Homo sapiens: one gene and its partners. The protein of the gene in region 1 interacts with the protein of each later gene in a pairwise test. Each region holds a gene or a part of one and is shown on either strand. Other genes may lie near its edges. The genes, in order: SH3GLB1, GNB4, RHEX and PLIN3.

Region 1 (7,024 bases):
TCTTTAATGTGTCTGTAATTGTTAGAGATACATACTGAAATGTTTATGGATAAACTTATATCATATCTGAGATTTGGTTTTTACAGGGTATTTTTTTTTTTTTTTTTTTTTGAGATGGAGTTTGGCTCTTGTTGCCCAGGCTGGAGTGCAATGGCGCGATCTCAGCTCATTGCAACCTTCGCCTCCCCGATTCAAGCCAATCTCCTGCCTCCGTCTTTCAAGTAACTGGAATTACAGGCAGGCTCCACCACGCCCAGCTAATTTTGCATTTTTAGTAGAGATGGGGTTTCACCATGTTGGTCAGGCTGGTCTTGAACTCCTGACCTCAGGATCCACCTGCTTCGGCCTCCCAAAGTGCTGGGATTACAGGTGTGAGCCACCACACCAGTTGAGATTAGCGTTTGAATATTTCAAAAGAAAAAAACAGAAGTCGCTGAAACAACAGCAACGGAATGTTGATAGTTGTGGAAGGTTGGTTATGGGTTCATGAGGTTTCATTATACTGTTATACTTTTGTATGTTTGACATTTTCCATAATACTTTTTTAAAGATAAAATTTGTAAGAAAAAAAGGATGCTTCTAAAATAGAACATGTGAAATTTGGAATGCTGTGTGGTAGTTTTCAACAAAACACTGCTTTCTCATCTCAGTATTTATTTCATCACTGAGTTCCTACATTAAATTGCATTGACATCAGTATAATGCCAAAGTACCAAGTTTCATGCTAAGAATAGCTTAAGAGCTATGCCAATATCTCTTTATAAGCAGTAAGAACAGTAGAGAGAGAAACATTCACGTTTATAAATAATAATTTTCATTCAAATCAAATTGTACCGTAAGGAATATGCCATTCTTTGGTTGGCCAACGCCATACATTGTTTTCCATTTTACTTAAAAATTTCTAAGTTAAAAATTAAACATGTTTCTTGTTTTAAAAAAAGGTCAGCTCAAACTAGTAAAGCACATAGATGCGTCCCATCACCACTCCACTTCCCTCCTTTTAAAATTTGTTTATAAGCCTTGGTACTTTAAAAAGAATGTTAGACTAGAATGTATAAATGAGTAGGAATGTTTATTCTTAACTAGCCCATTTGGGTGCTTGTTTTTAAGTACCTCAAGATGGTAAAATACAAAAGTATCAGGTAATTCACCCTTGCTTAATTGTTATTTTACTAGAGTTTTAAATGCCATTTATTCTTAGAATCCATCTTTTTAGTCCAAACTTCTTAGTTGAGCATTAAATACTCCCTTACAATCTGGTCCTTTCTCTCACTTATATAAACACTGTATTCCAAATTATTTTTTAATTTCCAAAATATCTTCTACTTATTTTAGGCTTTTGTTCATATGGTTAGACTCCTCTTAAGTGTCCTGTCTGCCTATTCTTTCCTTTCCTTAAGATACAACTTTATTCATCTCCAAAATGGAGAGAGTAAAAAAAATTTTAAAATAAAAGTAAAATAAACTTTTTTTAAAGATATAGCTTCAAATCCATCTCAGCTGATAAGGCTTCTTAGACCACAAGAGCTTGCTGTGAAATCGTGAATCATTTTCAATTCCAAATGATGAGGTGGCACTTTTCTTCTAATGAACTGTTATGTTAGATCTCTTGGAACTCTAAAGTTCTGTTACTCTGACTTTCTTTAATAAGTTTGTATGTGCTAAGGCATCAACTCTGTTTCTTATTCCCCTCTTACAACATCTAACATGGTTCATCTTTTATATCATTTTAGCCAGGCAAATTACCATCCATATGTGAAGTTTAATCTTTGAAGGGCAACAATAAGCATGTTAAATAACAGTATCTTTATTAGTATTTTCTAACATTGTTTGCGGACCTTGAAGTTAACTAATACCAGTATAAATTGAGTACCTCCTAGGTGCTTGGCGTTGAAAGATACAAAGCTGAATGAGACCCTGTTCCTGCCCTCAGAGACTTCATAATAATAGTCTCAAACTTGTCATAAATCTTATTTGTACTAAATAGCCATTTTGTGAATAACTTTATTTGATAAATCTTTCAAGTGGATAAAGGAACAAGAGATGTGTTTTTAACTCAGAATTCTTATTGAAGCAAAACCTTGCTCACCATCATTAAAATAAGAGCAAAGACTTTCTAAAAAGAATTTTTCAAATCAAATTACTTAGGGAGGGAGTTCATTTTAATTTTCTAACATTTCCTCTAAACTGATTATTAAAGTCATACTATGAAATTCGTGAACACCAGCTATTTTCTAAGGAATATAGTTCTTAAAATATAGTTTTGAGCTTGGCCTTGATCTCCCATTTATTTCAGCAAGTGTCATGGTGTGTCTAAGGATGTAAAGATGAATATGATGTTGCCGTTCAATAGCTCCTGTCAGACCCTCCCTGGAGTTTCAGTTTGGCCAAACAACTCTCTCAAGCACTTCTGAAATCCTATTTCTTTTACAGAATTCACACCGTGACAACTTCACCATGTTTCTTAAATTCTAATAAATAAAATATGTCACATTCGAAATCCATACATTTTCTTGTTATATAAAAACTCTACATGTTTAGTGTTACTTAAAACTGTTTTCACATCCTTTGGTGCTATTTGCATTACTTTAGTAAAATAGATAGAAGATAGTTTGTTAACCTGATGTTAAAATTTACACTTATGTACTACATGAGTAAGGTAATTAGAAAATCTATAAAACTCTTTTAAATTCATCATATTTCTTGAAAGAATTTTTTTTTTTTTTTTGAGACGGAGTCTCGCCCTGTTGCCCAGGCTGGAGTGCAGTGGCACGATCTTGGCTCACCGCAATCTCCGTTTCCCAGGTTCAAGCTATCCTCCTTCCTCAGCCCCTCTAGTAGCTGGGATTACAGACACGCGCCACCGTGCCCGGCTAAATTTTGTATTTTTAGTAGAGACGGGGTTTCACCATGTTGGCCAGGCTAGTCTCGAACTCCTGATCTCAGGTGATCCACCCGCCTCAGCCTCCCAAAGTGCTGGGATTACAGGCATGAGCCACCGTGCCTGGCCTTTCTTGAAAGTATTTTTAAGGTAATGACAGAGCTACAAATTAATCCTAAACTCTTAACCACACCCAACTGATGTACTCCTAGTTGCTTTGCTACTATATTTAAAATGATCAAACACCTAAGTCAATTACTTTAATATTCTTTGGAGACCAGCTTACTGAAAGAACCTCAACACAGTTAATATATTTGAAGCAAAACTCCAGCACAGTGAAGTAACAGTAATAACAGCTGAAATTCCTAAATGGGCCAAAGAGGAAAGTAAAGTAATGCAGCATGCACTAAACCAAGCGATACATATTTAAATAGTTATGAATGAGTTTAGAACAGTGGTTCTCAGTCTTGGCTGCACTTAAAATGCTTGGGGAATCTTTATAAATGCCAATATATGAGCTACACCCCAGTCCAATTAAATTAGAATCTTAGGGGTTGGATCAGACCAGACATCAGTGTTTTCTAAAGCTCCCTCAAGTAATTCTAAAGAACAGCCAAAATTGGGAACCAATGGAGAAAGATGCACCTTACAGTTTACTAATACATTATTCAGAATCTGTGTTACATATTTTCCAAGAAATTTAAATTACTTTTAGAGTATTACCCTTTAGTAATACTGGTGATTAGAGTTTGCATTAAATAGATGTCTTTGATCACACACCCATTTTATTTGTAGTCTTTTTTTTTTCTAAAAGTAGAGTTTGGAATCCAGGCTCCTTATTTAATAATGTGGGTTATATGCCTATCCTGTAGTAAAAGAAGGATTACAGTGCCTGGTATAATGTAGCCGACTCAAAGACAATTCTTTCCGCAAAGCAATATTTAGAGAAAATATATAAAAGGGGATTAAACTTTTATTCTTATGCCACTTTGCCATATTACAAATGAAATATGAAAAAATTAGGTATCAAATTATATTTTAGAAAACATTGAGTTTAATGACTTACTAAGAAGATGCTTATTTACAGTTTGCCTTTTATTTTAGGTTGTTTACACAAAAGTTCTTAATTATTAAACTATACTGCCATCTATTCATTAAAAGATATGCTTAAAATCAACTAGTTTCTCATTAATACCTATTATCAAGAGATTACAAAATCAGTAATGATTTTTGACTTGAAGATGTTGAAAACTAAAATTTTTATGGGTTAATTTAAAATTTTTTGGTAACTAGGAAAGGGATCTTTTTTTAAAAGAAAGAATTAATAGGTCTTTTGCCCTTCTGAAAAGGTGCCATTATTATAATTTTGTTTGAGTCAAGGCAGTATTCTCCTAGTAGATCATAAAATCCTTGAGGGCAAGAAGTACATCAGATGCTGATCATCTTGCTGTAGAAGCCATAAATATTTTTGATTAGTAATTTAAATATTAATTTAGTTGAGATGACTCCTAGTGTCTGTAGTAGACGCATTATTTACAGTGCTTTAGAGAAAATGTATTAAATATTGTATTTGTTATCTTAATAAAGTGTACTTCTGATTAATTATGGAAAAATCCTTTTGCTTCCACCAATGATAAAATTTGGGAAATATTATGTCTTTTACAATTATATATTTAAGTAATAAGATTTAAATTTATAATTTCAATTTTAAAATATGATAGCATTAGCAATGTCCTTATTGTGTGTCTTCCTCCCTTTTATTCATTCATGATAGGATTTAGTTTACTAATTTTGGTGAATAATTATTGAATATCTTGTAGAAAGCAGAAGTGATCTGGGGGAGAAAGCTGTCCAGAGTGCTGCGAACAGACATAGGAGAAAGGAAGCACAGAATATGATTGGATAATAGTAATAGAAATAGAAAATACTAATTTTGGAAATCAGCAAGTATTTACTGGAAGGGTAGTATAGCATGATAAGACTATGACTCAAACAGATGTGAGATTGAATCCCAACAATGACACCTTGGACAAAGTGTTTAATCACCCTGAGTCTCAATTTATTAATCTCTACAATTATTCTTACTTTATTTTAAGATTCTTTCGAGTATTTGTTGTAGAATGCACAGCTTAGTTAATGGAATTTTTGAACATACACTAAGCCTTGACACAGAAGTATGAGAAAGATGTAAATGGATGTGCTGAAATGTGAAACATAGAAACATTGTCATGTGACCCTACAGTACTGCTATTTTCTAAACAGGTTTTCTGTAATTAGACTGTCTCACTCATGTGTAAGGGTTCCATGTATCTTCTGAACTAAAATAGTTAAAAAAAAAAAACCTACTAATTGTGTGTGTTTGTAGAATCTTTATCAGTTAACATATTTTCTTTCTTCCTCAGACTCATACAAATAAATCACTTGGTGCAAATACCCATCTTTGCTCTGTTATACTTTCATACTCTTTTCAAAAAGAATATATATTTATTGAGATACCTGGGAGGTAGTATCATGAGAGTCACAAAGAAAATGTTAAATAATTAAGCAAACAGGCCTTTTTACCTGAAGATTGAAGTGTTTTATTTTCCAAATAATTAACTTTCTAATTGCTGATTTTCCTGAAATACTGTCGGGAGAAAACTTGCCCTGAACCCCAGTTTGTATCAGATAAATTCAGTGACTATTTTATTTTATATTTATTTATTTTATTATTAACTTATTAATTAGAGATAGGGTCTTGCTGTGTCACCCAGAATGGAGTGCAGTGGAGTGCAGCTGGGACTACAGGTGTGCACCACCATACCTGGCTAATTTTTTGGATTTTTTTGTAGAGACGTGGTTTCGCCATGTTGCCTAGGCTGGTCTAGAACTCCTGAGCTCAAGTGATCTGCCTGCCTCAGCCTCCCAAAGTGCTGACATTACAGGCGGGGGCCCCTGCTCCTGGCCATAAGTACTGATTTTGAATTATTGATCTGTTGATTTTTCTATTAATCTATTCTTGGTTATTAACTATAAGTTAAGGATTTCCACAGAGAAATTAATATTTAATATGTGTGAGGGTGATGCTAATGAGCTTAAAGAAATTGTGCAACTGGAAGATAAATCATCAGGACTATACACTCTTTCCTTAGATCTTAACATAGTTCATATCATTCAGTCACAGGTCGTTTGTTACCTACTCAGAGATGCTGTTTCTCTAACTACCCGCATCTCACACTCCTCAAACTCCTGCTCCCCTTTCTAGGCCCAAGTTGCCCATCCCTCCCCCACTGAAGCCTTCCCTGATTCTCCTGCTCTCCCTCTTCCTCTCCCTGAAGAATGAATTCTTTCTCTGTACTTGGATTTGTATGTCACTCAGAAACAAACCAACCATGTTGGTCCGCTTTACCATCTTCATATCTTTATATCCTTATTATCAGATTATTTATTTATCTATTGTCTGTCTTTGCCATTAAAATGTAAGCTTCCTAAGAACAGAAACCTTATATGTTTTGTTGGCTGCTGAAACCCATGTGTTTAGAAGAGTGCCTAGCACATATGTAGGTGCTTAATAAGTATTTGTTGAAGGAATAAACAAAATGAACAAACAAATGGATAAACTTGCTTATTAAAGGGAAATTTATGCATGCAGTTTCAATTTTTAAGGGGCTAAGTGAATTTTTTTTAGATCACTCTTTATAGGTGATGTTCACCTGAGTGAAAGGTATTCCCTTTCTTCCCTTCCTATTGGTCACTTTATCTGGGAGTTATTTTATCTAGCCATTGGTGGTAGACTTTGAACATGTAAAAGTCTAGTAGGAGGTCTGTTGCTTAGAATCTTCAGGGATCTGTAAAGACTACGGGGTTCTCTGTTAAGAATGAGGTTGCATAGTTTATCCAGCTGGCCTTGGGATCAGGGTTTGCTTTTGCTCAGTGCCCAGTCCTCCAGCTACACTGCAAGTTTATGGGCTTAGGCAATAGCTTTGTAACTGCTATTTTTGGTTCTACCCACTAGGTCAGGGGCTGGCTATAGACCATTCTCAAAAAGACCCAAGGCTTTACAAAAGCTATTTAAGCTGTTATTTCTAGCCCCTAAACAGGAGCCTCAGTGGAGATTGTAACCAGAAGTCTAAGAATAGAATTCTAGAGGATCCTTCAGCTTAA
Region 2 (7,667 bases), on another chromosome or scaffold:
AAAAAAAAAAAAAAGTCTATGTCCCTATTACATGAATTTGTGACTGCCTAGACCAAGTGAGGATAGTGGAAGCAACACTATGTGATTGCTGAGGCTAAGTCATAAAAATGCTATGCATTTCCTCCTTGTTCTCTTGGAACACTTGCTCTTAGAACCCAGCCACTCTAATGCAAGGAATTCCAAGTAGCCCGTGGAAAGCCCTACGTGAAAAGGAACTGAAGTTTCTGCCCACACACCTGGCTGATCTTCCAGCTAGCAGCCAGCACCAACTTGCCAGCCATGTGAGAGTGCCATCTTAATAAGAGTCAAACTATCTGAGCCAGCATGGAACAGAGAACACGTCTGCCAAGCCCTGCCCATGTTGGAAATTCATGAACAAATTAAATAATTGTTGTTGTCCTAATCCACTAAGTTTGGTGACTTGAATAGAGCAATAGATAACTAATATGTCATCTCATTTTTAAACTCATGTTTTTACTCACTTAACAGAAACAGATCAGAGTTCCTTTTGAAAATGTGGTGTTCAGAAGAGTTCTTGGGATGAAATGAAGCTTACAGGGCAAGAGTCCACGATTGATTAGTGAAGTCATCCCCGGACATAGTCTGAGAGATGGCACCAGTGTTGTCTATTTGTCAATCGTATTAGAATTCAGCACCTTCATTTTATATAATTAAGACAGAATGCTGGCAGGGTAAGATCTGCTTAAGATCACACAGACATTTAATACCAGAGCCAAAGCTCTAAATCAAGTCTTCTGATGTGCAGTTTAGTGTTTTTTCACTTTGACATGTCCCTTTCCGGGGACCTGAATTCCCTGATTTCCCTGAATTCCCTGATTCCAGGGACCTGAATGACAGGACATAGAGCAGCAGATATATGCCTGCATGCTTCTAGTTCCCTCTCCCATGCCTGTGACAGATATCATTGACCCTCTCTTAAGGTCACTGGGATGCACTTGGATGACAGATTCCAAATTCCCATGGTTAACGAGAACCTGAGTGGAAATAAACAAAAGCTATAACTGATTTGTACCACCAGTGTCAGAGGAGTACAGCAAAGGTGACTCAAAGTACAAACTGTACTTTGATATGGAAAATGCATTGTGTGTGAGCAAGAGGGAAGGCTTTAGGCATGACTACTCTGTATCAAGGATGTCTGTCTGAAACCACACATAGACTGACTTCTTACAGAATCTACTAGGGAATTGCTTCTCATGTCCTTGGGAAACTGTGCTGTAGATCCTGTTAGATAATTTCCATTTAATATTTTATAACTTATTTTGTTGTGGGTGAAATAAAATCTGTTACGGTAGTTGTGATGTTGTATGTATATAATTTGGCCTCATTTCAAACACAATAGAATTGGAATGCATACAACACATACAGGGCGGTACTGAAATATTGTACACTTTAATAGCTGTGTTCTTCACGGTGTGCTTGGCATCGTCTGAGAGCAAGGTAGGCTCAGAAAAAAATATAGACCATTTCTAGGGTAAAACTTAAAAGCAGGATATACAAACCTATGGCACTATGGATTACAGGGTAGCTCACTGAGTACAGCATTCAGATTCATCCAATGTAGGACCAAGAGCAGAGCTTCTCTGAACTTGATCATAGTGAAGCAAAACACCCTGCAAAAGAAACTGTAACTAAACTCCTAGAAAAGCAATGACCACTTTCTCCTCTCCTATGATTCTGACTAGCGTGTGGGATGGGGTGAGGTATGCAGGTTATTTGCATAAAACAAGCAGCCAAGTGCATTCACTCATTTATTTGTTCGTGGAGTACCTAGCAAATGCAAGGTGCTCTGTTAAACACTATGGCAGACACAAAGATGAAACGGACAAGGATTTTGTCTTCAAAGGTTCTCTAGTAGGGACCCCACTATGCTCTCTTAATAGAGTAGGATTTGAGAACATGGGCCTAATGAGTTAGAAATCTAATTATCAGCCAGTGGCACCCAAACAAAAGATCATGGGGCTTAATCCTCAGAAGTAGGATACATCTCTACAATTGTCTACACAAACCAGCAGGCATCAGAAATGTTAATAGCATACCCCTTCACCTTTCTCTCTGCCTCCCTTCCCAGTCTCTCTCTTTTGTTCTTCGTGGATTTCATTATCATTGGAAAAATCATGAATTGCTGGATCACTTAGATGCATTAGTGTGCTCTTATGAAATCATTCCTGATGACAAAATTCTTTTAATCAGCTCCACTTTCAGATTTTCAGTATAGGCTTGTCCTTTAACAAGTAAGTTTTTTTTTTTTTTTCCAGAACAATATGGAGCAGGTATGGCAAAACAGAAATACAATATTCTTGGAAGTAGATTCGTTTGGATAATAATTAAACTTTCCTTTTTCTGTACTTGGACTTTATTCTTCTAGTAATTTCTTTGTCTACATTAAATTTTCAGGAAGATTGACGATATCATTCTTTTAAACTCTTTAAAAGACAGTCAAATTCTTGTTACATCTTTTCAGGTTTTGTATTTTATGTTTAGGAGCTGTTCATTTATATTTCCCCTCATCTTTTCTGGAATAGACTATCTCATTGCTTCCCACTGTGTTTTCCTAAATACCAGCAACTTGTTTTTCAACAAATAATCTTAACCCAACAACCAGCTCTCAAAGCTTTATAACATCTGGTAAATGCTAGTGCACAGGAACAAGGCAGAAAAGAATCTAAAGAAAGAATATGGGGCCGGGATCGGTGGCTCACGCCTGTAATTCCAGCACTTTGGGAGGCCGAGGTGGGCGGATCACCTGAGGTCAGCAGATTGAGACCAGCCTGGTCAACACGGTGAAACCCCGTGTCTACTAAAAATACAAAAAATCAGCCGGGCGTGGTGGCTTGTGCCTGTAATCCCAGACTTGGGAGGCTGAGACACGAGAATCGCTTGAATCCTGGAGGTGGAGGTTGCAGTGAGCTGACATCACATCACTGCACAGTGACTCCGTCTCAAAACAAAAAAACAAACAAAAAAAAGAAAGAATGTGGGCTTTGGAGTTGATCCAATCTGATGTCATGCAGGGCTCTACCAATACCTTCGTGACTCCGATAAATTAATCTTACCAGGGCATCAGTTTGCTTATCTGTAAAATGGGGATAAAATTCACACTTCAAGGTAATTATGAGGATTAAGTACAGTATAAGAAAGCAGAGAGCATGGTCCGTAATAGGCACTCTTTAACAATTTCCCTTTGCTTCCTCCGAAAAACGACAATCATAAAACTCAGGATTTAATCATTAAAACATAAATAGTTACAGATGCAAAACACTCATGTCCCAACGAGCTCTTCTGACACTTTGATATGCAGAATATTTGGCATTTCTTTCTTCTTAATGGAAAAATGCTCCTAATATTAGTAAAAATGAAAATTTTGGGGGAAAAATTATCCACAGTTTCTTTATCTGTGGATAAAGAAAATAGAAACAGCTGCTTCTATTTTTGTCACGGCCTGGCTTTTATACAAAACGGTCACATTTTCCCCACAGTCACAAACAGGGTGTGTTTATCATGGCATCACCTCTTTCAAGGGACTAATAGATTTATTCCAGGTGATAGTGGGAAGCAGCTACAGAAGGAGGATTGGAAGGCTGAGGGGTTGTTAAAGTTATCTGATGATATTGTTCGAACATTTCTCCGGCACAGAAACTCCACAAAGAACTCCTCTGCAGTTTTCGCTACCCAGGGCTGTTTCTTTAAATTGTTTGACGTCAGAGAAGGAATGCTATAGCAACAGTCTGTCAAACTGGAATTAACTCAGAAGAAAAATGGGGGTGGGGAGAGGAAAAATGCTCCCAGGCGGTACTGACTTCAGAGGAAGCAAATTGGATAGATGCATTTATTTTATGACATTTTAAACATAAAACACCCAGATAAATGTGAAAAAAAAAAAAACTCGATTGAGATGCATGTGGTGTTTAACTCATGCAGAGAAGAGCGACTTGGCAGGGATATCTGGAAGGCCTTCCAGTTTTATCAATGACAATAGGAACAATAACTTCCAAGTATTGGCCATTTATTTGGAGGCAGGCTTCGTGCAAACATCACTTCATTTAATATGCTTAGCACCTTTATGAGGCAGGTATCAGTATCTTTATTTTGGCGATGACGAAACTTAGGCCCGAGACGGTACACGGTCCTACAACTAGTGATGGAAGAGCGGGGACTGCAACGCAAGGTTGTGCAACTCTGGGCTTCAGTTTACTTTCTGACATTTAGAATTCCAGAATGGGAAACCTAAATGGGGCCTTTGGGGTCTTCTAGCTCTGCCCTTCGATCCTGCTAACAAGCAAACTGGCGCCTGTCAGCGCCGGAAAGGAAACTGGCCACGCCACTTAGACGGGCGCTACTTAGCAGCGTGCCCCGGCGCCACACCAACAAGAAAACGAAACTGCCCGGGAATGAATGTTTTTCTTCTCCTTCTGGCAGGAAACGAGAGAGAAAATAGGAAGCAGAAGCTGCGCGCGGCGCCCGCTCCCTTCGCCCCCCGCCCGGGCTGCGCGCGCTCCGAGGGTCTGCGCGTCCCCGGCACGTCCCCGCCGGGCCCGCGCGCCTCGTGCCTCGCGCCTCGCGCCTCCAGCCACGTCCCCGCCCCGGCTCCGGCGCGCCGCGGAGTTGGCTGCTGGGAGGTGCGGGACTGGGTGTGGCCGGCGGCTCTGGTCTCGGCTGTGAGCTGCGCTCTCCACGCCGGCTCCGCGCTCCAGGGGCTGCTGAGCGCCCAGCGGACACCGGCAGCGCGCGGTCGACGCGGGCCTGAGCTCCCTCCAGGTAGGCGGCGAGCTCGCGAGCGGCGGCTCGTCGGTGCGCCCCGCGAAGCGATCCCGGGCTTCTCGCAGGGACGTGGGGCGCCGCGAGCCACCCCTGCGGAACGGGGCCCGGGTGACGGCGCGGGGCGGGGCGGGTCTCCCCGGGCTCGGGCGGCCGACGCTGCCCGGGAGGGACGAGGAGGGCGCGCCTGTGTCGCGCCCAGCTGCCACGCGGGAACTGGCCCCACGACCGCCGGCGCAGGCACTTCCCGGGCGGTCCAGACCGCTCGCCCCGGGGAGCGAGGAACGGTCGGCGGTCCAAGTCCTGCAGACCCCCCTGGTTTCTCGTCACTCCCCGAGGCCTCCTTCCAGGAACTCAGAGCACGAGCCCGTGCGTGCCCCCAAAATAACGGGTATTCGGGACTGCCCAGCAGGGCTGTTGGGTGGAGAGTGCTTGGAAGACTCATAAAAGTTCTACGCTGAGTCCAAAATTAGTCCAATGGTTTTGTTTCAGATTTATTTTGGAAATGATATAATGTCCAGAGTTTGGGGATGGGAGGGGATTGATGAATTTTGAATACTTGTGAGTTCAGTACAATAAAAAGTGTTTTGCTTTTCTCTCCACCTTTTTCTGCTTCAGAACACAGATGATTGCCATATACTTTGATATGTATTGCTATTCGCTAAGGGAACGTTGAATTTTCAAAAGTTTGAAACCAGGCTTTCATTTGTTTATACAAGCAATACTTTGTTATTTTTCGTCTCCTTGTGTTCCCTTTTCTCCCACTCCTTCCCTTTCTCTTTCCATAAAGGATAAGGATGCATCTTTCTCCCTCTCAGCCACCGACAAAGTAGCTTGGCGTGTGGCTTAGCGGGAAGTTTTCTTAAAACGTTCAAAATTTAATTGTTGATTAGAACTTTTATTATGAGTCCGTCTCAGTGTTGCAAACAGAGTTTATGACCATTAAGTACATCTTCTAGGACAGAGACAGAACACACGCTACTTAATTTAAGATGGGAGGGAAGTTATTTCTAGTCGGAGAGGAGGACGGCTGATTAGGTGCATTCAAAATTGTGTGCTTCGAGTCTCTGCCATTGTTCATTTTAATACTCTTCAGTTTGGGGCTTTTGGTTTACTACTGATCCTAGGCTCTGAAAATTTACTGTATATTTCAGTATGTGGCTTAAAGACATTTTAAGATTTTCCATGTTGCATTTTGGTTTGTAGATGAATTTGAAACTGAAATAGAAACTTTTAAAATATCATCTTATTGAACGTTGTCAACCCTCTGTATATACATTTATAAAACTGATTGATACAGCTTGTGATATTTTAGGTTGGTTCAACTCTTTGTGGGCCCATAAACATTATTTAGGAAGTTATTCCGAGTCTTTGGCCTTTGTTAACCTGTAGAATTGTTTCTTTTAAACAATTGGCATGTAAGTATGTCAGCACATACTTTTACACTTTAAAAATAGACTCTGGGGCAATTTGAAAATTAAGAATTGGAACTAAGTGTTGGACATTCTTCTGGCCTTACCAAATACTGCCTGAGATGGTGTGATTTCTCTTAGGCATGTTATTGAAGTCAGCTGGCTGTATCATCAGTTTCTTTACCTTGCTGACTATTTTAATCTGCGTCTGTTATGGACTTATTTATTAAAATATCTCTTCTGGGCTGGGGCAGTGCTGTAAGTTATTCTACTTATATCTCACAGTAACACCATTATCTACTTCCACAGGTAAGGAAATTGTCTGTGAGGTTTTAAGTAACTTGGCAGTGGTCATGTAGGTGTTAGGTAACTCAACTGGGATTCGAAGCAAGACCCCTCTGTTTCCAAAGTCCATGTTCTTTCCCCTGAGCCATATTAACTTAGTTCGAGGGCATGAGGAGTGACCCTCAATTACTCATTAGCATGTGTGTAAAATATCCAAGACATGCCAGAAGCATGTTTGTTTTTCCAGCATGATCATTATTGTCTGTCCCATGTTTTTATACAGCTTCTCACATCAGCCATTCTCTTCTCACCACTCTACTCCTAGTTAAATGTCTTGTTCCAAGTTCAAAACCTCCCTTTTGCCAGGGCACAGTGTATCCTATTGATATTAATAGGTAGTGATGGCTTAATTATCTTGATAAAACAGTAACTCCATTTTAATGTGGGTTCTCTAGAGATAGAGTTATAACTAATTTGGAAGGTTACAAACAGGATTGCGGTCAATTTTGGGATATGAGAACCCTTTGATATCCCTCAAATTAAACTAGAGGATATTTTGATGGATATTTCCCTCTGCAATTTATCATACTCTCTCCTGCACCTTCAATTTGTCAGTTACTACAGAATCATTTACATTATTGTACAGTCTGCCATTTTAAAATAAAATGGTTTCTTGATCCAGTGTTCTGCTTCAGTGACTGCCTCATTTCTTTTTATTTATTTATTTTTATAAATAGAAGCGGGATCTCGCTGTGTTGCCCAGGCTGGTCTTGAACTCTTGGGCTCAAGCAGTCCACCCACCTCAGCCTCCCAAAGTGTTAGGATTACAGGCGTGAGCCACGGCGTCTGGCCCTGCCTCATTTCTCTACCTCACCTTGAGGAAGCGTAGTTTTTTGACAGAACAAAAAATAAATACAGGAGTGAGAACCAGAAACTAATTAGTTACCTACAGGCACCGGGTAGGAACTGAGTAAATGGGAACAACAGAAGGAATGGCCTTGTTCTGAATGTACTTTTTTGCATAGTTTTGAGTTTTGGAAACTGTTAGTCTTTTTTATGTTCAAAAATAAAATTAACAAGATGTGGAGAGTGGGACTCCAAAACAATACAAACAGCAACAACAAACCGTGTATTTATGTGAATAATATAAACTCCCAGAAGAAAAAAAAAAAAACCAAGTAAGTTTTGAGCACA
Region 3 (7,416 bases), about 120 Mb from region 1:
CCCCAACCTCAGAGCCTCCTTGTTGCCTCATGCCTGGACTTTGCCCCTCTGGTAGAGCCTTTCTACACAGCCGCTGCACTGCCAGCCAGCAGGCTCCGGGGGGAATTCTTGTGTCCAAGCAATTGCTGTCCTCTTGACACATCGCTATTTGAGAACACCCAATCTGTTCCTCCTGAATCTTTTGGCTTGCACCCCTGGATGTAGCATAGCACACTCTTGGCAGATAAGGCAAAATGCTCCTCTCTTGCCCTATGGTGAAGAAATGCCATGGGTCCTTAGATCAGCAATTCTCAAACTCTTTGGCCTCCAGACCCCTGTACACTCTCAAAAAGTACTAAGGAACCCAAAACGCTATTGTTTATGTAGTTTATATCTATTCATATTGACCATATCAGAAATTAAAACTAAGAAAATTTAAAAATATTTATCTAATCCCCTTAGAAAATAGTACCAAAGCCATTACATCTTAAACATAACACTTTTTATGAAATATAACTATTTCCCAAAGCATGAAGAATTTAATGAAAAGAGAAGCACTGTTTTATGCATGTGCAAATCTCATTATTCATACCTAGCTCAATAAAAGACAGCTGAGTTCTCAGGTCTGCCTTTGCACTCAGTCTCATGCCATACCACATGTCACATAGACTTTGGGAAACTCCACTGTATGCTTGAGAGAAACTGAGAGTGAAAAAGGCAACTAGTATCTTAGTATTATTAAGAGAGTGGTTTTGACCTCATGAACCCTCTGAAAAGATCTCTGGAACCCCCAGGGGGTCCCTGGACTACACTTTGAGAACTGCTCCCTAGATCATTGGTTTCTTGATGACAAGGCCTTTTTCTATTCATCCTTACAGACTGGGTTATTTATTTATTTATATTTATTTATTTATTTATTTAAACTGAAAGACCAGTGTAATAGGACAGACTGGGCTTTAAACAGACTATGTAGTTGGCACTCAGTAAACTTTGCCTGAATTGTTTGGAAATGTCTGTGTCATGAGGGTTTATCGCTCCATCATCAGCATCCAGGGACATGCTATACTCACTCTAGTGATGCTGTTATTGCTGAAGGCGTTTGGATTCTCCTTGGAGGTCGGCCTTTAGAGAAATTGGTAGTTCTGTTGAATATCCTCAGTGATGTCATATCTTTGTTCTCTGAGGAGTGCTTTGATTTTTGGAAACAGCCAGAGTGAAATCTGGATTATAATATGAGTAGTCAAATTGGGTAACACTGTATTTTGGATTTGTAAAAAGGAATACTGACTTCCTAAAACTGGGATGGCAGATCTACTTTAATGGCCATTTCTCTAATTTTACACACATATTTACACCTGTGCAAATGATGTTTGTTGCAGTTTAATAATTACATCATCATTTCAAGTGTAAAAAGTGGAAACAATCTAAATTTACTACTAGATGACCAGTTAAATAAACTGTGAGCAACCATAGAACGGAACACTCTGAAGAGGAAGAAAGGAATGAGAAAGTTCTGTATGTATTAATAATAAATTAACTCCTAGATATATTAAGTGAAAAAGCAAAAGGCAAAACAAAGTATGTAGTACACTGTCATGTGTAAGGAAGACGCCTGTATGGTGAGTGTGTTTCTGTGTGTCTGTGTGTTTGCTCATGTACACATAACGTACACAATAAACTGGGCATGCTGGTTTCCTCCAGGGAGGAGAACTAGATGGCTGGGGTCAAGAGCAGATGAGCAGCTTTTCCAGGACTATCCTTTTGTACCTTTTGAATTCTAAAACCATCTGAATGTGACCTAATGAAACAAACACTTCAAAAGTCCCAAACTGAAAAGGTGATGATGTCCTCCCCTTACAAAATTAAAAATAAAAACAATTTTAACACTTAGAAAACCTATTCTCTAAAAGAATTCTCTGTATTTCCTGGCCAATAACACAATTGTTAGAAGAAATGTACAATGTACCAGGTGACATGTGGAAGGGGACAACAGAAGGGGGCAATGACAGGCACTTGTGAAAACATTTGCCTTTTTCTTGATCACGTCTTGTTCCTCTTCTCATCCTTGCTTCATTTCACAAATAGGGGAACTGAGTCCAAGTAAGTGAAGTGACTCATCCGTGCCACCTGGGCTCTTGGTTCCAATGCTTGCCTTGTTAGGGGATTTCCTGACTGCTCCTGCAGCTCTCTTTGCTAGAATGTGGTAAGAGTTGGGGGAGGAGAGGGTGGCAGATCCTCTTTCATTTGGCCTTAAGCACACCTCCCTCTTCGCCTCTCACCCTGAGCAGGGCTGGCGCCTGAGGCCGGTGAACACCTGTGGTGGTGGCTGTGGGACAGCATCTTCCCCTGCTCTTTCTCTTCCTTCTTCCCCTTGGCCACCCACACCCAGGCAGGTGTCCTCCCCAACCCCAGGACACTGCTCTTGGTGTTTCACAGGCACGTGTCCTCTTTTTCTGAAATTGACATTACCCAGTTCAACATCACCTACTTTACCGGAGTACTTTGGGCTCTTTCAAATCAATTTCCGCTTCGAAGGCTAAAGATTTGTCATCAGCTAAGAGGTTCAAAAGTCTGTGGTGTAGGCTCTCCAAAATTCTGGCAGAGGTCAGTTGACCCTGGCTTTTATGAAGGAGTCTTTGGCATTCATTCATTCATTCATTTATTGAAGAAATATGTATTGGACCTATTCATTGCATGAGGCACTTTCTAGACACTGGGGGTGAAATGTTGGCCAAAACAGATAAGGTCTCTGTTCTTATGAAGCTCACATTCATGTGATGAGAGGCTGACAATAATCAAGTAAACAAATAAATGATCAAGGTGACTTCAGATACTAATAGATGAGAGGGCGATGTGACAGATAGGGTCTGGGGAGCCACCTTTGAATTTGTGCTGAATTCTATCTGAAGATGCCTTCACTAAGAGAGAGGTGCTGTCTCCATGGCCTTTGAGGCCCTCCCCTCCAGTGGTGAGATTTTAACAATCTCCCCATCTGACAGGTTCCCATGCAGGAATGAAAGACATGGAAGGGAAGAGGGGGGCCAGCTCCCTGAGTCCTGTGTCCACCAGCTGCTGCTAAATACCTCTGAGAAACTCTGCTTCTATCTAAGGGGACCTACTTCTCTCGGGAATCTCAATACTTGGAACAAGAACCTCCTAGACGGACCCTTTGGCATAATGAATTGGACCAACTGTAGGTTCCAGGACTAGAGAGCCAGCAATGCCTCCATGAACAATCTCACCCAATTACTCTGCTCAGGTAAGACCAACTGAAAACTAGAACAATACAAATGGTGGTTATTCCTGTCTTCTGTTTCTTTGTTTGTTTTTGTGACAGGGTCTTGCTCTGTCACCCAGGCTAGAGTACAATGGTGTGATCATGGCTCACTGCAGCCTCGACTTCCCTAGCTTAAGTGATTCTCCTATCTCAGCCTCTCAAGGAGCTGGGACTACAGGCATGCAGTAGCACACCCAGCTAATTTTCGGATTTTTTTTTTTTAAAGTAGAGACAAGGTCTAGCTATATTGCCCAGGCTGGTCTCAAACTCTTGAGCTCAGGCGGTCCTCCTGCCTTGACTTCCCAAAGTGCTGAGATTATAGGCGTGAGCCACTGGGCCTGGCTCGTTATTACTGTTGAATAATAGTCTGATCACTGAGTTCTTAAACAACTCCATGAGGTAGGCATTCATATTCTGTCTGTTTCACAGATGAGGCTCAGAAAAGCTAAGTGTTTGTCCTAAGATCACAGTTAGGAAGTGTCTGAGACCCAGGTCACTGTGAGGGAAGAGAGAGACCCTCTCATATTGTTTTATATTGTTTTATACTCAGTACCTGTTTTAAGGAAAAACAACAAGGAAGTAAAACCAAAGACAGGCAGTCCGGCGCCAGGCCCGAAACCAGGCCTGGGCCTGCCTGGCCTAAACCCAGTAGTTAAAAATCAACTCATAACTTAGAAACTGATGTTATTCATAGATTCCAGACATTGTATAGAAGAACATTGTGAAACTCCCTGCCCTGTTCTGTTTCTCTCTGACCACCGGTGCATGCAGCCCCTGTCACATACCGCCTGCTTGCTCAAATCAATCATGACCCTTTCATGTGAAATCTTTAGTATTGTGAGCCCTTAAAAGGGACGGAAATTGTGCATTCGGGGAGCTCGGATTTTAAGGCAGTAGCCTGCTGATGCTCCCAGCTGAATAAAGCCCTTCCTTCTACAATTTGGTGTCTGAGGGGTTTTGTCTGCGGCTCGTCCTGCTACATTTCTTGGTTCCCTGACCAGGAAACGAGGTAACTGATGGACAGCCGAGGCAGCCCCTTAGGCGGCTTAGGCCTCCCCTGTGGAGCATCCCTGAGGCGGACTCCGGCCAGCCCGAGTGACGCGATCCAAAGAGCACTCCCGGGTAGGAAATTGCCCCGGTGGAATGCCTCACCAGAGCAGCGTGTAGCAGTTCCCTGTGGAGGATTAACACAGTGGCTGAACACCGGGAAGGAACTGGCACTTGGAGTCCGGACATCTGAAACTTGGTAAGACTAGTCTTTGGAACTTGCCCCACTCCATCTAGGTGGAAGTGTGGCCTGATCACCCACGACATGCCTGCATTGGCACTTCTGTTCTGGTTTTGACTTGACTTAGATTGTGTGATACTTTGGTTTTGGTTTTGGTTTTGACCTGGCTTGGATTTCTGGATACTCTGATTTTGGTTTTGATTTTGGTTTGGTGTAAACTGCAAGAGTGTGTATGCCCTTTTTACCTGTTTTTTTGTTTGTGGCATGTGTGTGGTGTGGGTGTGGTGTTTTGTCTCGAAGAAGCATGGGTCAGGTACAAATAAGCCCACCCCACTAGGAACTATGTTAAAAAAAAATTCAAGAAAGAATTTAAGGGAGATTACAGTGTTACTGTGACACCAGGAAAACTTAGAACTTTGTGTGAAATAGACTGGCCAGCATTAGAGGTGGGTTGGCCATCAGAAGGAAGCCTGGACAGGTCCCTTGTTTCAAAGGTATGACACAAGGTAACCCGTAAGCCAAGGCACCCAGACCAGTTTCCATACATAGAAAGTTACAGCTGCTTTTATACCCCCTTGCCCCGCCAACGTAGTTAAGAGAACAGCAGCATAAGCGGCTGGCAGAGGCAAGGAAAGACCAGTAGAGAGAAAAAAAGGCCATCTATACCAATTCTAAGTTAATTTAGACTAAACAAGGTCTTAATAGCAAAGGATAATTGAAATCCCAAACTTACAAGGTTTTCAACAAAAGTGAAGTTTGCTTAAAGTTAACAGTGTAACATGTATTATGGTAACTTCTAATCTTGTGGCCTTAGACAGTCTAGTCCAAAGGCATAAAGAAAGTTTGCTTTAAAAAAAAAAAAAAGGAATGGTTATCTTCAAAAAAAAAAAAAAGTGGGGGGAGACAGAATTTATGTAAAAAGAGTGTTATATGGTAAATTCTTGTCCTGAAATAAACTAACTGGTGTTTAAAGAAAAAAAATGTTTGTAATAAGTCAGAAAGTTGAGACACATTGAAGAATTGTCGGCAAAAGTCGTGAAAGAAAAAATGTTATAAAAAAATTTATGCAAAAAATGTTGTATAATTTAAAAGTAATAAGGCCTCCTGAGTACTATTAAAAAAACAGTTTATGTGCAAGGTGTATAAGAAAAGTAAAACATACCTTTGGTAAAAAGATTATAAAGGGGCATAAGAATGTGGATTTTTACCTACATTAAAAGGTTAAAAACAATTATTGTTTTAAAAGTTTAAGCAAGTTTTAAAACGTTAATTATAAAGAAAATTCTGTGTGTAAACATATTAGCTAAAGTTAAAAAGGTATCATCCAGTTTTTCTGTGAACTGGACATTAAAGTAAAAAATGCCACAGGTTTTTCTTAAAGCATCAACCTGCTCTTTAACAAAAATTATAAAAGGTTAAAAAGAGTCTATAAAATCTTACCTTATGGTCAAACATGAAAAATTGGATAAATATGTCTACAAGGTTTTATTAAAATTCAGTTTAAAATTAATAACACACTAATATAAAGGTAAAATTTAGCTTATCTGGTATAAAAATCATACAAGAAACATTATTAAATATAAAATGGTGTTTAGCTTTCTTTGGTCTAAAAACTAATAAAAATTGGTGCTAAAGGAAACATTCATTTTACTAGAGGATCATAAAAGTTAAAGACTTAAAACAAACTTTGGCAATTAAGACAGCACGCCAAGATGCAAGTGCCTGGCTGAAATGGATCAAATATTCCATCTGCACTTTAAACAAATGCAATTGTTATGCTTGTGCACATGGCAGGCCAGAGGCCCTGATTGTCCCCCTTCCACTAAGGTGGTCCTCCAGTTGACCAGGCATGGGCTGCAGGGTAGCTATTTTCCAGGTTTCTACAGCTTGGAGTAATAAGTCATGCCAAGCTCTCTCTGCTATATCCCAAAGTCCCTGCGGGTCAGCCCCTGAGGGCCGTCCAGCTTCCGTCTCCCAACACTAAGTTCACTTCATGTCTCTCATGGCAGGGAGGAGACTTAGCATTCCTTGGAGACCTGAAGGGATGCAGTGAGCTTAAGAATTTTCAAGAGCTTATCAGTCAGTCAGCCCTTGTTCATCCCCGAGCGGATGTGTGATGGTATTGTCGTGGACCTTTATTGGGCACTCTGCCGAATAACTAGAGTGGCACTTGTGCTTTAGCCTATTTGGCTATCCCTTTCACCCTGGCATTTCATCAACCAGAGGAAGGAAAAAAAAAATAATAAGACATCGTAAAGCGAGAGAAGCCCCTTATGGGTCTTTCAACTCTCACATCTATTTAGATGCAATCGAAGCCCCGCAAGGAACACCAGATCAATTTAAAGTCCGAAATCAAATAGCTACAGGATTTAAGTCAATATTTTGGTAGATGACAGTCAATAAAAATGTAGATTAGATAAACTGCATCTATTACACCCAACAGCAATGAGCTTTTCATGAGTTGAAAAAAAGAAAAAACCCATGTCGGCCCCAGCCCTGGGGCTACCTGACCTGACAAAACCTTTTACACTCTATGTGTCAGAAAGAGAAAAAGTGGCAGTTGGAGTTTTAACCCAGACTGTAGGGCCCTGGCCAAGGCCAGTGGCCTATCTCTCAAAACAACTAGATGAGGTTTCCAAACGCTGGCCCCCATGTCCAAAGTCCCTGGTAGCAATAGCCCTGTTAGCACAAGAAGCAGATAAGCTAACTCTTAGACAAAACCTAAACATAAAGTCCCCCTATGCTGTGGTGATTTTAATAAATACCAAAGGACACCATTAGCTAATGAATGCTAGACTAGCTAGATACCAAAGCTTGCTCTGTGAACATCCCCGCATAACCATTGAAGTTTGCAACACCTAAACCCCGCCACCTTCCTCCCGGTGTCAGAGAGCCCAGTTAAACATAACTGTGTAGAGGTATTGGACTCAGT
Region 4 (7,024 bases), on another chromosome or scaffold:
TGACCTGGACTTCATAGCTCTGCGGTGCAGGCAGGCATGTTATCTCACTTTTTAAAAAAAGCCTAAATTTTGGCTGGGTGCGGTGGCTCACAGCTGTAATCCTAGCAGTTTGGGAGGCCAAGGTGGGCAGATCCCTTGAGCTCAGGAGTTCAAGACCAACCTGGGCAACATGGCAAAACCCCATCTACTAAAAAACAAACAAACAAAACAACAACAACAACAAAAAAAAAAACAAACCACGGCTGAGTGCAGTGACTCATCCTGTAATCCCAGCACTTTGGGAGGCTGAGGCGGGTGGATCACGAGGTCAGGTGTTCAAGACCAGCCTGACCAACATAGTGAAACCCCATCTCTACTAAAAATACAAAAAATTAGCCAGACGTGGTGCACACCTGTAATCCCAGCTACTCAGGAGGCTGAGGCAGGAGAATCGCTTGAACCCAGAAGGCGGAGGTTACAGTGAGCCGAAATCACGCCACTGCACCCCAGCCTGGATGACAGAGCAAGACTCCCTGTCCAAAAAAAAAAAACAAAACCACACACACACACACACACACACACACACACACACACACACACACACACACACTAGCCAGGTGTGGTGGTGCGTGCCTGTAGTCCCAGCTACTTGCAGGGTCAAGGTGGGAGAATTGCTTGAGCGTAGGAGACAGAGGTTGCAGTGAGCCAAGATCGCACCACTACACTGCAGCCTGGGCGACAGAGCGGAAATCCGTCTCAAGAAAGAGAAGAAAGTTTGCCCTATTTAACACATTTTATCCCTTGACTAGATCTTTGTTCATGTCATGTCAGTTACATTTAGTCTTTTGTTTGTTTTGTTTTGTTTTCTTTTTTTTTTTTTTGAGATGGAGTCTCGCTCTGTCACCCAGGCTGGAGTGCAGTGGTGCAATACCAGGTCACTGCAACCTCCACCTCCTGGGTTCAAGCGATTCTCCTGCCTCAGCCTCCTGAGTAGCTGGGATAACTAAACATGGAGGCGTGCACCACCACGCCTGGCTAATTTTTGTATTTTTAGTAGAGACGGGGTTTTGCCATGTTGGCCAGGCTGGTCTCCACCTCCTGACCTCAGGTGATCCTCCTGCCTCGGCCTCCCAAAGTGCTGGGATTAGAGGTGTGACCCACCACATCTGGCCCATGTGAGTTACATTTAAATCTCTTTTTTTTTTTTTTTTGAGACAGAGTTTCGCTCCTGTTGCCCAGGCTGGAGTGCAGCGGCGCGATCTCGGCTCACTGCAACTTCCGCTTCCCGGGTTCAAGTAACTCTCCTGCCTCAGCCTCCTGAATAGCTGGGATTACAGGCATTCGCCACCATGCCTGGCTAATTTTATATTTTTAGTAGAGATGGGGTTTCTCCATGTTGGTCAGGCTGGTCTCGAACTCCTGACCTCAGGTGATCCACCCGCCTTGGCCTCCCAAAGTGCTGGGATTACAGGCGTGAGCCACCGCACCCGGCCTTTAAATCTCATTCTTTAGCCACTGCATTGGGATACACTTATTTTTGTTTTTGTGTTTTGAGACGGAGTCTCACTCTGTTGCCCAGGCTGGAGTGCAGTGGCGCGATCTCACCTCACTGCAACCTCCGCCTCCTGGGTTCAAGCGATTCTCCTGCCTCAGCCTCCTGAGTAGCTGGGATTACAGGCGCCCACCATCATGCCTGGCTAATGTTTGTATTTTTAGTAGAGACGGGGTTTCACTATGTTGGCCAGGCTGGACTCGAACTCCTGACCTCGTGTTCCACCCACCTCGGCCTCCCAAAGTGCTGGGATTACAGGCGTGAGCCACTGTGTCTGGCCACACTTGTTGTTTTCTTATTCCCCTTTTGCTGGGCATCCAGGTTGTTTCCAGTGTCATGTTGTGGCCAGTAAGTCCACACAGCTCTGCTCATGTGGAAACACAGGTGTGGGTTCTTCCCCGAAGTGAGGTTTCTGGGTCAAGGGGAAGATGGCTCTTGGAACTTGACAGCTATTGGCAAATTGTCCTCTACAGAGGTTTTAGGTCATACCTGGCTTGCTGGAGTACAGGTGAGCCCTGAAGGGACTGTTCCCAAGCCTTGCTTCCTGACGTGTGTCCCAGGGACCAGCTGCATCAACACTGCCTGGGAGCCTTTTAGAAATGCAGGGTCAGGGCCGGGCATGGTGGCTCACTCCTGTAATCCCAGAACTTTGGGAGTCCAAGGCAAGAGGATTGTTTGAGACCAGGAATTCGAGACCAGCCTGGGCAACATAGCAAGATACCATTGGCCAGGCACAATGGCTCACACCTATAATCCCAGCACTTTGGGAGGCCGAGGCGGGCGGATCACGAGGTCAGGAGATCAAGACCATCCTGGCCAACATGGTGAAAACCCGTTTCTACTAAAAAAATACAAAAAATTGGCCAGGTGTAGTGGCACACGCCTGTAGTCCCAGCTACTGGGAAGGCTGAGGCAGGGGAATTGCTTGAACGTGGGAGGTGGAGGTTACAGTGAGCCGAGATCGTGCCACTGCACTCCAGCCTGGCGACAGAGCAAGACTCTGTCTCAAAAAAAAAAAAAAAAGATAACATCTCTACCCAAAAAGAAAAAATTAAGTAGGCGTGGTGGTGTGTGCCTATAGTCCTAGTTACTTGGGAAGCTGAGGCAGGAGGATCCCTTAAGCCCAGGAGTTAGAGGCTGCAGTGAGCTGTGATTGTACCACTGTACTCCAGCCTGGGTGACAGAGCAAGACCCTGTCTTTAATGAGAAAAAAAAAAAAGAAAGGATCAGGTGTGGTGGCTCACACCTGTAATCCCAGCACTTTGGGAGGCCAAGGTGGGTGGAACACAAGGTCAGGAGTTCAAGACTAGCCAGGCCAATATGGTGAAACCCCGTCTCTACTAAAAATACAAAAATTAGCTGGGCGTGGTGGTGGGTGCCTGTAATCCAGCTACTCGGGAGGCTAAGGCAGGAGAATTGCTTGAAACCAGGAGGCGGAGGTTGCAGTGAGCCCAGGTTGCCCCACTGCACTCCATCCTGGGCGACAGAGTGAGACTGTCTCCAAAGAAAATAAAGAAAAAAAAAAAGAAATAGGGGGCCAGGTGAGCCCCATCCCGAAGCTTTAGAATCAGCACTTGCTATTGAACAAAGTCCAGAGGTCACTCTTGTGCCTGCTAAGGACTGAAAGACACAGCTGTAAGTCATGGGCAGGTGTGAACCCTGTCTTCCAGCTGCAGCGTGGGCCTGGACTTTCTCCTGGAAGGTGGGGCCAGGCAGGCTGTACCTGACTGTTCCTCTCTCCTCAGCGTCTGCTGCAGAGACCATGTCTGCCGACGGGGCAGAGGCTGATGGCAGCACCCAGGTGACAGTGGAAGAACCGGTACAGCAGGTGAGGAAGGGCCGGGACCAGGGACTGCCCCGACCCTGTGATTCCCGTGCAAGGAGGCTTCCCACCCCAGGGTGCCCTGGCAGGGAGCCAGGGATCTGCCGGCAGCTCACGGAGCCAGAGGGATTTATTCCTCAGTGGGGTATGGACCACTCACTGGTGTCCCCAGTTGGGAGGGGGGAATCTCAAAGGCCCTTGGAGGGCCTGAGGGAGCAGGGTTCTGTCTGAAACTACCTGCCCTCCCCAACCCCTGAGCCAAATCATCCTCACCTCTGAAGGCTCTCTCAGGGACGTCCTAGGAGGCCAGTTTCTATTCCAGATCTCTCATCCTCAGGTGATTTTATTTTATGTATATATTTTTGAGATGGAACCTTGCTGTGTCGCCCAGCCTGGAGTGCAGTGGTGACATCTTGGCTCACTGCAACCTCTGCCTCCTGGGTTCAAGCAATTCTCCTGCCTCAGCCTCCCAAGTAGCTGGGGTAACAGGCATGTGCCACCACGCCCGGCTAATTTTTGTATTTTTAGTAGAGACGGAGTTTCACCATGTTGGCCAGGCTAGTCTCAAACTCCTGACCCAAAGTGACCCACCCGCCTCGGTCTCCCAAAGTGCTCGGATTACAGGCGTGAGCCACTGCTCCTGGCCCCAAAAATAATTAAAATTTAAAAATCAAGTGGTGCGCTGGCTGTGACCCATGGGCTGTGGTCTACAGCCCCCGGTTTAGACCCTAACTGCCATGAGAATGGAACTGTTGTCCCTTATCACCACCTGGCACATCGCTGGGATAAAGTGCAGGCTCATGTAAATAGCCTGTGTTCAAGGAAGCACGTGGGCTGAGTGCGGTGGCTCACGCCTGTAATCCCAGCACTTTGGGAGGCTGAGGTGGGCGAATCACGAGGTCAGGAGTTCAAGACCAGCCTGGCCAACATGGTGAAACCCCATCTCTACTAAAAATACAAAAAAATTAGCTGGGCGTGGTGGCACCCGTAATCCCAGCTACTCAGGAGGATGAGGCAGGAGAATCGTTTGAACCTGGGAGGTGGAGGTTGCAGTGAGCTGAGATCGCATCAGTGCACTCCAGCCCGGGCAACAGTGCAAGACTCCGTTTCAAAAATAAAATAAAAATAAAGGAAGCACGTGGCGAAACCCCAAGGTTCCTGGCTTGTGCAACTGCCTGGATGCAAAGTGTGGGTAAACTGAGCCGTTTCACTGGCCAGGAGTAAGAGCAAAACTGCAGGGCACCCTGAGTTTCCGGCTGAGCTCCCCATCTTCCCCCACCCAGTTTGCCTGAGCCACTTCTCTCCTGTAGCCCAGTGTGGTGGACCGTGTGGCCAGCATGCCTCTGATCAGCTCCACCTGCGACATGGTGTCCGCAGCCTATGCCTCCACCAAGGAGAGCTACCCGCACATCAAGACTGTCTGCGACGCAGCAGAGAAGGGAGTGAGGACCCTCACGGCGGCTGCTGTCAGCGGGGCTCAGCCGATCCTCTCCAAGCTGGAGCCCCAGAGTGGGTGAAGTCCCAGGGGGCACTGAATTCCCCTCCTGGTCATTTCCCTGGGTGGGGAGTAGGGGGGTCTACCCAGCTCTTGGTCCTGTCCCCCTGAACCATTACTAGGTGACCTTCCAGCAGTCACATTTGCGTCTTAATTGTTGTTGGCAGTTGCATCAGCCAGCGAATACGCCCACAGGGGGCTGGACAAGTTGGAGGAGAACCTCCCCATCCTGCAGCAGCCCACGGAGAAGGTAACGATGTCCGTCCTCAGGGGCTCTGTCGAGACAGGGACCTACCTGGGTGTGGAGTGCGCTGGTCCCAGCTTAACTAGACAAGCTTGATGGCATCCTCCCTGCTGCCTCTCCTGTCGGTTCCCATCCCCACCCCGAATCCACTCCCCACAGGGTAGCTGGAGGAATAATTGCAAAGCCAGCCAGATTACAGGCGCCTGCAACCATGCCCATCTAGTTTTTGTATTTTTAGTAGAGATGGGGTTTCACCATGTTGGCCGGGCTGGTCTCGAACTCCTGACCTCAGGTGATCCAGCTGCCTCAGCCTCTCAAAGTGCTGGGATTATAGGAATGAGCCACGGTGCCCAGCCCACTTGTTTTTATAATAAAGTTTTATTGGCACACAGCCATGCCCATTTATTTACATATTGTCTATGACTGCTTTCACCCTACAATGGCAAGGTTGAGTAGTTGTGACAGAGACTGTGACCCACAGTACTGAAAATCTTAGTTACGTGGCCCTTTACACAGAATGTTGCCACCTCCATAACTTATTAGTCAGAAAAGGTTGGCGGCAGGAAAGTCAAAACATCAAAACACCATGTTCCTGGCCGGGCGCGGTGGCTCATGCCTGTAATCCCAGCACTTTGGGAGGCCAAGGCGGGAGGATCACCTGAGGTTGGGAGTTTGAGACCAGCCTGACCAACATGGAGAAACCCCGTCTCTACTAAAAATACAAAATTTATCTGGGTGTGGTAGCGGGTGCCTGTAATCCCAGCTACTCGGGAGGCTGAGGCAGGAGAATTTCTTGAACCCTGGAGGCGGAGGTTGCAGTGATCCGAGATCATGCCATTGCACTCTAGCCTGGGCAGCAAGAGTGAAACTCCATCTCAAAAAAAAAAAAAAAAACCAAAAAAACACCATATTCTGGCCAGGCGCGGTGGCTCATGCCTGTAATCCCAGTACTTTGGGAGGCTGAGGTGGGCGGATCACAAGGTCAGGAGATCGAGACCATCCTGGCAAACACAGTGAAACCCCATCTCTACTAAAACTACAAAAAAAAAAATTAGCTTGGCGTGGTGGCGTGTGCCTGTAGTCCTAGTTACTCGGGAGGCTGAGGCAAGAGAATCACTTGAACCCAGGAGACGGAGGTTGCAGTGAGCTGAGATCGCGCCACTACACTCCAGCCTGGGCGACAGAGCGAGACTCTGTCTCAAAAACAACAAAACAAAAAAAACACCATGTTCCAAACTGTGTCCTGCCCCTCAGCAGCTGGGTGGCCCTCACACAAGTTACTTTGCCTCTGTGGGCCTCACTTTTTTTTTTTTTTTTTTTTTTTTGAGACGGGGTCTTGCTCTGTTGCCAGGCTGGTGTGCAGTGGTGCAATCTCGGCTCACTGCAACCTCCACCTCCGGGTTCCAGCGATTCTCCTGCCTCAGGCTGCTGAGTAGCTGGGGTTGCAGACGTCTGCCACCACGCCTAGCTAATTTTTGTATTTTTAGTAGAGACGGGGTTTCACCAAGTTGGCCAGGATGGTCTCAATCTCTTGACCTCGTGATCCTCCCGCCTCGGCCTCCCAAAGTGCTGGGATTACAGGCATGAGCCACTGTGCCCGGCCCCCTCTTTTTTTTTTTAAGATGGAGTTTCGCTCTTGTTGCCCAGGCTGGAGTGCACTGGTGCAGTTTCAGCTCACTGCAACCTCCACCTCCCAGGTTCAAGCGATTCTCCCGCCTCAGCCTCCCGAGTGGCTGGGATTACAGACATGTGCCACCACACCTGGCCAATTTTTGTATTTTTAGTAGAGATGGGGTTTTACCATGTTGGTCAGGCTGGTCTCGAGCTCCCGACCTCAGGTGATCCACCTGCCTTGGCCTCCCAAAGTGTTGGGATTACAGACATGAGCCACCAGGCCCAGCCTGGGTCCCACTTTCTTTTCTACAGAATGGC

Evidence for each region.
Region 2: the proteins of SH3GLB1 (region 1) and GNB4 interact in binary tests that used the Homo sapiens proteins (3 or more experiments, as listed by UniProt).
Region 3: the proteins of SH3GLB1 (region 1) and RHEX interact in binary tests that used the Homo sapiens proteins (3 or more experiments, as listed by UniProt).
Region 4: the proteins of SH3GLB1 (region 1) and PLIN3 interact in binary tests that used the Homo sapiens proteins (3 or more experiments, as listed by UniProt).

The regions. Positions count from the first base shown.
Region 1 is NC_000001.11:86,707,555-86,714,578, forward strand, and holds part of SH3GLB1 (endophilin-B1), read left to right. Parts: intron 1-7,024. UniProt on the Homo sapiens protein: May be required for normal outer mitochondrial membrane dynamics. Required for coatomer-mediated retrograde transport in certain cells. May recruit other proteins to membranes with high curvature. May promote membrane fusion.
Region 2 is NC_000003.12:179,448,455-179,456,121, reverse strand, and holds the start of GNB4 (guanine nucleotide-binding protein subunit beta-4), read left to right. Parts: upstream 1-4,651; 5' UTR 4,652-4,776; intron 4,777-4,907; exon of another isoform or gene 4,908-5,145; intron 5,146-7,667. UniProt on the Homo sapiens protein: Guanine nucleotide-binding proteins (G proteins) are involved as a modulator or transducer in various transmembrane signaling systems.
Region 3 is NC_000001.11:206,048,764-206,056,179, forward strand, and holds the start of RHEX (regulator of hemoglobinization and erythroid cell expansion protein), read left to right. Parts: upstream 1-4,409; 5' UTR 4,410-4,502; intron 4,503-4,679; exon of another isoform or gene 4,680-7,416. UniProt on the Homo sapiens protein: Acts as a signaling transduction factor of the EPO-EPOR signaling pathway promoting erythroid cell differentiation.
Region 4 is NC_000019.10:4,857,664-4,864,687, reverse strand, and holds part of PLIN3 (perilipin-3), read left to right. Parts: intron 1-3,276; 5' UTR 3,277-3,293; coding exon 3,294-3,359; intron 3,360-4,663; coding exon 4,664-4,862; intron 4,863-5,015; coding exon 5,016-5,098; intron 5,099-7,024. UniProt on the Homo sapiens protein: Structural component of lipid droplets, which is required for the formation and maintenance of lipid storage droplets. Required for the transport of mannose 6-phosphate receptors (MPR) from endosomes to the trans-Golgi network.